Linked DNA regions of Homo sapiens. The protein of the gene in region 1 purifies or fractionates together with the protein of each later gene. This does not show direct contact. Each region holds a gene or a part of one and is shown in the gene's direction. Other genes may lie near its edges.

Evidence for each region.
Region 2: the proteins of BTN3A2 (region 1) and ODR4 purify together in Homo sapiens (affinity purification with mass spectrometry; one large-scale study listed by BioGRID and IntAct). This does not show direct contact.

The regions. Positions count from the first base shown.
Region 1 is NC_000006.12:26,368,189-26,372,007, forward strand, and holds part of BTN3A2 (butyrophilin subfamily 3 member A2 isoform a precursor), read left to right. Parts: coding exon 1-79; intron 80-376; coding exon 377-724; intron 725-2,133; coding exon 2,134-2,415; intron 2,416-3,819. UniProt on the Homo sapiens protein: Plays a role in T-cell responses in the adaptive immune response. Inhibits the release of IFNG from activated T-cells.
Region 2 is NC_000001.11:186,378,675-186,382,493, forward strand, and holds part of ODR4 (protein odr-4 homolog), read left to right. Parts: intron 1-1,092; 5' UTR 1,093-1,111; coding exon 1,112-1,210; intron 1,211-3,819. UniProt on the Homo sapiens protein: May play a role in the trafficking of a subset of G-protein coupled receptors.

The DNA.
Region 1 (3,819 bases):
ATGGCAAGTTCCCTGGCTTTCCTTCTGCTCAACTTTCATGTCTCCCTCCTCTTGGTCCAGCTGCTCACTCCTTGCTCAGGTAGGGAATGATTCCATGATTCCACATTTATGTTTCTGAAGCAGACAATTATCTCAATTACCTAATTAAGCAGACAATTACCTAAATGCCCTCTTAGAACCTTTAACTCATTCCCATACCTGGAAGTCCATCCCAACCTGAAGGATCACCTGTCACAAAGAGACAAATGGTCCTTCTGTTAGGATTGTGTTCCCCTCTAGGTTCTCTGTATCTCGCCTTCCCTGTCTGAGAAGGACCCTTCCTCTCATGACCCCAACTCCAAAACCCTCTGATGGAGCTTCCCCCTTGTGCTGACAGCTCAGTTTTCTGTGCTTGGACCCTCTGGGCCCATCCTGGCCATGGTGGGTGAAGACGCTGATCTGCCCTGTCACCTGTTCCCGACCATGAGTGCAGAGACCATGGAGCTGAAGTGGGTAAGTTCCAGCCTAAGGCAGGTGGTGAACGTGTATGCAGATGGAAAGGAAGTGGAAGACAGGCAGAGTGCACCGTATCGAGGGAGAACTTCGATTCTGCGGGATGGCATCACTGCAGGGAAGGCTGCTCTCCGAATACACAACGTCACAGCCTCTGACAGTGGAAAGTACTTGTGTTATTTCCAAGATGGTGACTTCTATGAAAAAGCCCTGGTGGAGCTGAAGGTTGCAGGTGAGCCTCCAGGTTTTGTTCTGAGAACATTTCTCTGTAGGATCTAGAGCAGATGCAGAGTCCCTCTTGCAAAAGCACTGCAGACACTCCTGGCTGCTCACTAGCAATTGCCTGCACTGCCTCCCAACTTAGCTTCTCTGAGGCCCTTGAGTAAGACACAGGTTTTCCTTTAGGAAGAATTCCTGCTGTACCCTACATGCTCAAGTAAAGAACTCCTTTCCTCTGGCCACCAGAGATATAAGCGAAGTGAAGGACGAGGGATAGGAAGCATAAGAAACCATCTCTTCAGTGACTGGTACACAGTCATTTTGGTTTAGTTGTGTAACAGATGGCTTCTGTTGTGTCTCCAAGTGCACACTACCATGGGTCCTGGGAGGTGGAATAGTGACTGTATCTGCTGCCAGTGTTCTCCAACTAGCCATCCCCAGGAATACTCCTGTAGTAGAACTAGCTGTATTTCTTACGTGTTGCAGTGAGGAAGAACACACATCATGGGGAGCTGTGGCGGGGTCTCAGTAAGAAGGTGTTAGAGCAGACTTGGTATACAATTTGGGCTTGTGTTAGGGGATTGGGGCCGGGGGAGTTCATAGACTTAGCCCTCTGCTCTGGATGAGATTCCATCAGGAAGGTGTGGGCAGGTTAATTCTGAGTGAGAGCCTTAATCAATCTTATGTAGGAAGAAGGAGACCAGGGTGAGACAAAAGCTGTAATTGATGAAGGGGCAGCAATCCCTCATTGCTGAGGGGGGATGTTTGGTCACTGCTGTGGTTTGGACAATGTTCATGTTTTTCTCTATGCTCACATATGATGTGGGGTGGTATTGTTTTTCCCATGATCCATCATAGTCACAAAGTGCCATTGTCTGTGTTCTGTGAAATTGCTTATGTTCAACAGGATGACACAGAGACCCGGTGTCAGTTTCCATATGTTGGGACAGCTTTTCTCTTTCTCAGTGCAATCCCTTGCCCTGTGGCTGCTGGTTAGGTTTGGTTTAAGGGGATCTCTAGCAGACAATCATAGGAGGAAGAGAAAAGGAAGAAGTCTGGGTGCTTATTCACTGGCTTCCTTACTGCAAGTTACCCTCAGGCTGGCTGCATTGCCTTGCTGAAGGTAACAGCTCCTCTAAAGGAAGTCCTCAATGCATGAATCTCTTCTTTTTTGTGTTCAAAACAGCTTCCTCTCCTCCTCCCTCTGGTAATTGGGGTGGGTGGGAATAGCCCCACTGTTTCTGACCCTGGGATACTGCACTAGCAAATTTAGTTTTCCCCTCATCATGACCACACTTTTGTAAACAGCTCCTGAATGAAATATCTCTTGAATTATCAAATCTGAGCCTGACATTGATTCCCATTGAGACCCTCCCTAATACAGGAGCTATCCAGAATTTAGGCCAAATTATCCTTCCACAGCACTGGGTTCTAATCTTCACGTCGAAGTGAAGGGTTATGAGGATGGAGGGATCCATCTGGAGTGCAGGTCCACCGGCTGGTACCCCCAACCCCAAATACAGTGGAGCAACGCCAAGGGAGAGAACATCCCAGCTGTGGAAGCACCTGTGGTTGCAGATGGAGTGGGCCTATATGAAGTAGCAGCATCTGTGATCATGAGAGGCGGCTCCGGGGAGGGTGTATCCTGCATCATCAGAAATTCCCTCCTCGGCCTGGAAAAGACAGCCAGCATTTCCATCGCAGGTCAGTACCTGCTTGGCCTCAGGTTTTCTGAGCTGAGCTGTGGCAGTTGAATGAAGGGGGATGTGTTAATATCTGTGGTCGACCTGGGTCTCTGCACTGAATATAAGGCCCAAAGCACAGACCTGGAGGCTCCTCTTTGTGCCAGGGGAGCTTCTTTCCTCCATAAAGGTGTTCGTAACACAAACATTTTCTGAACATTTCCTATCTGCCAGAAAGTATGACAGGCAATGGGAATTGGAGGAAAAACATTAAGATAAGCTCCTTATATAATGTGAAATGACAAAATGGTTATATATATATATTTACAAACTCATATCATAGAGAAAGAGCTGATCTCCTTGAATCAGAAGGAGATTCTAAAAACCTAGTAAAAAGTTTTGGCCAGGCATGGTGGCTCACGCCTGTAATCCCAGCACTTTGGGAGGCCGAGGCAGGCAGATCATTGAGGCCAGGAGTTTGAGACCTGCCTGGCCATGGTGAAACTCCATCTCTTCTAAAAATTCAAAAAATTAGCCAGGTGTGGTGGAGTGCACCTCTAATCCCAGCTACTCAGGAGGCTGAGGCACGAGAATCACTTGAACCCAGGAGGCAGACGTTGCAGTGAGTGAGAGCAGACCACTGCACTCCAGCCAGGATTACAGAGCGAGACTCTGTCTCAAAAAATAAATAAAATAAAATAAAATAGAAACCAAGTAAAAAAAATGTTAACAAAGCCCATGAATTATCAATTCACAGAAAAGGAAATAACTCACAAAAGGGTGCTCATTCTCACTCACTGGGTAAACATATGAAATAATTTTTCACTTATGATATTTGCAAAAATCAAAACTGCTTTGGCTTATAATACATGATTCTCATAGGAATGTAGGAAGGCAGTGACTCTCAGTCATTTGCTCATGTAACTTCCTGTATTTTTGATGTGCATTAGGTCAACCTCTGTTGGGGGCTCTATAGCAATATCTATCCAAACTACACACTTATCGATCCAAACTTCCACTTCTAGGAATTTATCTGATAGATAAGCTTGCATTTGTATGAGATGATCCATGTGAAAGGTTTCTGTTTTTCGTTGTGTGTGTGTCTTTTTTTTTTTTAGACAAAGTCTCACTCTATTGCCCAGGCTTGAGTGCAGTGGTGCAATCTCAGCTCGCTGCAGCCTCTGCCTCCCAGGTTCAAGTGATCCTCCTGCCTCAATCTCCCAAGTAGCTGAGATTACAAGCATGTGCCACCACACCCAGCTAATTTTTGTATTTTTAGTAGAGACAAGGTTTTACCATGTTGGCCAGGCTGGTCTCAAACTCCTGACCTCAAGTGATCCACCCGCCTCAGCCTCCTAAAGTGCTGGGATTACAGGCGTGAGCCACTGCAACCGGCCTGTAAAAGGTTTCTTATAGCACTGATTAC
Region 2 (3,819 bases), on another chromosome or scaffold:
TTAAGTCCCTCCTTTGCCACTTACCCAGCTTTGTCACTTTGGCAAGTTATTTAATCAACTTTTCTCATTTCAGTTTCTTCATCTATAAAATGAGGATTATAATAATGGTACCCACTTCCTGGGGTTTTATGAATTATTAATGTTACATGGAAAGTACTTACAATAATGCGTTGTACAAAGTAGAAGCTATATGTTGTTATTGTATTGCTATTTATCTACTTAAATAACTCTTACTGTAGTATGTATTGCTCAAGGACAGAGATTGTGTTGCTCATCTTTGTGTTATCCCACTTAGCATAGTTTCTAAGCAAATAGTATAGTTCTTTCATATATGCTTATCAAGTAAATGAATTTGACTCTACCTCCTAATGAACTATTCAGAAATTCATGTTTACGATTTTAGCAATGAGAACACCAAGACTTAGCAATAGAGTATCAAAGATAATACAACTAGGGAGTAGATCTAAAATAAGAAATCTGGTGTGTTGGCTGGGCATGGTGGCTCACGCCTGTAATCCCAGCACTTTGGAGGCCGAGGCGGGCGGATCACCTGAGGTCAGGAGTTCGAGACCAGCCTGGCCAACATGGTGAAACCCCGTCTCTACTAAAAACACAAAAATTAGCCGGGCATGGTCGTGAGCCCCTGTAACCCCAGCTACTCAGGAGGCCGAGGCAGGAGAATCACTTGAACCTGGGAGGCAGAGGTTACAGTGTGCCGAGGTTGCGCCACTGCACTCCAGCCTGGGTGACAAGAGCAAAACTCCGTCTCAAAAAAAAAAAAAAAAAAAAGAAATCTGGTGTGTTGCTTACTAGTTTAGTATCCTCTCCCTTATCCCAGGTATGAGTAAAAGGTTTGATCTCTCATGTCAACTCTGGTTGATTTGTGGTTGTTTCCTGCTGCATTGTATTGAGAAGAACTCTGGAACTGCATCTGAACTTTGCAAGAAGGAATACACTATGTAATAAGTATTTGCTGCAAGGCATGAGATAGCCTCAGGATAGTATCACTTCTCTTGCTAAACTACTCCCATGATAAAGACATTGCAAATGATATTTTACCTAAATGCTGTATCTTTTCTTCTTGTGATATAGGAGATTTTAGTTCCTAAAAATGGGAAGAACCTACATTGTAGAAGAGACTGTTGGCCAGTATCTTTCAAACATAAATCTCCAAGGAAAGGCTTTTGTCTCTGGCCTTTTAATAGGACAGGTATGTATCTTTTACTCTGCATTTATAACTAAATAATTACTCTGTAATTTATTTTAAAAATTACTTGTTGATTTAAAGTTAAAAGATGCTATTTAATAATAAACTCAAGATTGGGGGATGGAAGAAGAAATGTGGAAGAAGTAACTTTAAAGTAGGTCTTTGAGGAAACATGGAGAAGTAGACAAACCTAGCCCAATTTTGCTCGTCAGGACACCTTCCCCTTTGACCATGTAAACGTAATTTATAATATGGAAACTTCAGAATTAGAATGTTTATTGACCAGATTTTTCACATTTTGTTGTCTTTCCAAAGTGTTTTGTATTCCCTTCTAATCTTTTTAATATCTGGTTGTCCAGTTCTTTACAAAAGAAGCTTTTGAAAATTTTATTCCTGTTCTAATTTGTGTTGTCTTATATCAGACTTATGGCAACAGTGGTCATATTTTTGTTGTAAGCTATAGTACCCATCTTACTGAATTTTTTGTTGTTGTTGTTGGATCAATAGGGAGGGAGAGGGATTGGGAAAAATTTGGAAATTAGACAAATTCTAATTTCCTCTTAGAGCTGAGTCTTAAAAACACAAAATGGAACAGAGATTCAGATACTTATTTTAAAACCCATGCCACTGATTTCTTATGAGTGAAGGAAGAACGTGTTAATCGGCAGGAGGGACCGGTCAGCAGTACAAAGCCAAAAAAAAAAAAAAAGGAGAGTCACACAGGCAAGCTGACTGTGTCCATCCAAACACAGGAGAGTGCACTTTGGCCCAAGGACTTGATTTTGAGGCCTACTAGCCAATAAAGCTCTTATTGGGACAATTTTCTTTCTAGATATCTTAGCCTGATGCCTTAGAATCTTCAAATTACATAATTAACTTTCCTTATTCTGATTCTACCCATATTCCCAAGCTACTTTCTTTTATAATTTGATGCCCCATGTTATCTACTTATAAAGAATACACTGTCCAGAGGACTCAAGTGTTCAGATGCCTTCATGACATTTTAGTTTTCTACATCATTCTGAATAAACTTAATCAATGTCAGTCTAGCCATGAAAGACAGGCTCATTTTCAGAATTTTTACAAATCAGATTTCTTAATTTGCAAGACAGAGGGCAGATCTACATGGTTCAACCAGGTAGCACCACTCTGTGAGGCCTCTCATTAGACAGCCAGACTGCCTCTCTTGAGAACAGTGTGAATTTCTTTTTAATTCAGTTGTAATGTGGGGCTCTTTTTGTTAGGAGTTTTCTATTTAAGTTTTTTTCTTTCTCTTTGTTTAAAACATTTAAGAGAAGAAGAGTCTTAGAGAAAGATGTGATCAGTAGAGATAAAAAGTCAGGGAGAAAGACCCTCTTCTAAATTTGTCTTAACTGGATAAAGGTTGTTTCTAAAGCTCAGGCAAACTGCCATCTTACAAATGAGTGTCTCATAATTTAAGGCCTTCCTTCTTTTTTTTTTTTTTGAGACGGAGTCTCGCTGTCGCCCAGGCTGGAGTGCAGTGGCGCAATCTCGGCTCACTGCAGGCTCCGCCCCCTGGGGTTCACGCCATTCTCCTGCCTCAGCCTCCCGAGTAGCTGGGACTACAGGCGCCCGCCACCTCGCCCGGCTAATTTTTTGTATTTTTAGTAGAGACGGGGTTTCACCGTGTTAGCCAGGATGGTCTCGATCTCCTGATCTCGTGATCCGCCTGCCTCGGCCTCCCAAAGTGCTGGGATTACAGGCGTGAGCCACCGCGCCCGGCCTAAGGCCTTCCTTCTATCTCTTTTTATGCTGTAGTATGTATTGCTCACGGACAGAGCAATTCATTCCTTTCAGTATTCTACGTGCTTTTTCTTCCAGAGTTCATTACTTTTTCCTCTCCTTCCTCTTAAGCTTGCCTGTTTCCTGGTCTCTGTCAGTTTCTTTTTCTTTTCAAAGTTATACATTTTATGAAGAAAAGAGGAGCCTTCTTAACTGAGACCTACTTTCTTTTCCTGTGTTTATTTGAATGTAACTTCCTGAAAATAACCTGTAGGAATAGTTACTCTTATTTTCTATCCCAAGATGATACTAATGATCAGAGTTTCAGGTCATGTGTGGGGAAGATACAATGCTAACTTGCATTAGCAGTGTTATTTTCACTCTTTTTTTATAGGAAACTTTCACTGTAGTGAAACTGAGCTATTGAATGTTCCCCTACATTTATTTTTAGATCTCCCAACTTTGGTTACTACTTAACTGATATTACAGCTGAAGAACAGATTGGGTGTGGTGGCTCATGCCTGTAATCCCAATGCTTTGGGAGGCCGAGGTGGGAGGATTGCTTGAAGGTCAGAGTTTGACCTAGCCTGGGCAACATAGCAAGACTCTGTCTCTACAAAAAAGTAAAAAAAAAAAAAAAAAAAAGCCAGGCATTATGGCTGATTGTTTGAGCCTGTAGTCCTAGCTACTTGGGAGACTACTTGGGGGGAGGATTGCTTGAGCCCAGGAGTGCAAGGTTGCAGTGAGCTATGATCACACCACTGCACTCCAGCCTGGGCATTAGAGCAAGACCCTGTCTCTAAATAAATAAATAAATACACACACACACAAAGAACAAAAAACAAAACAAAACAAAAAACTTGAGGAAC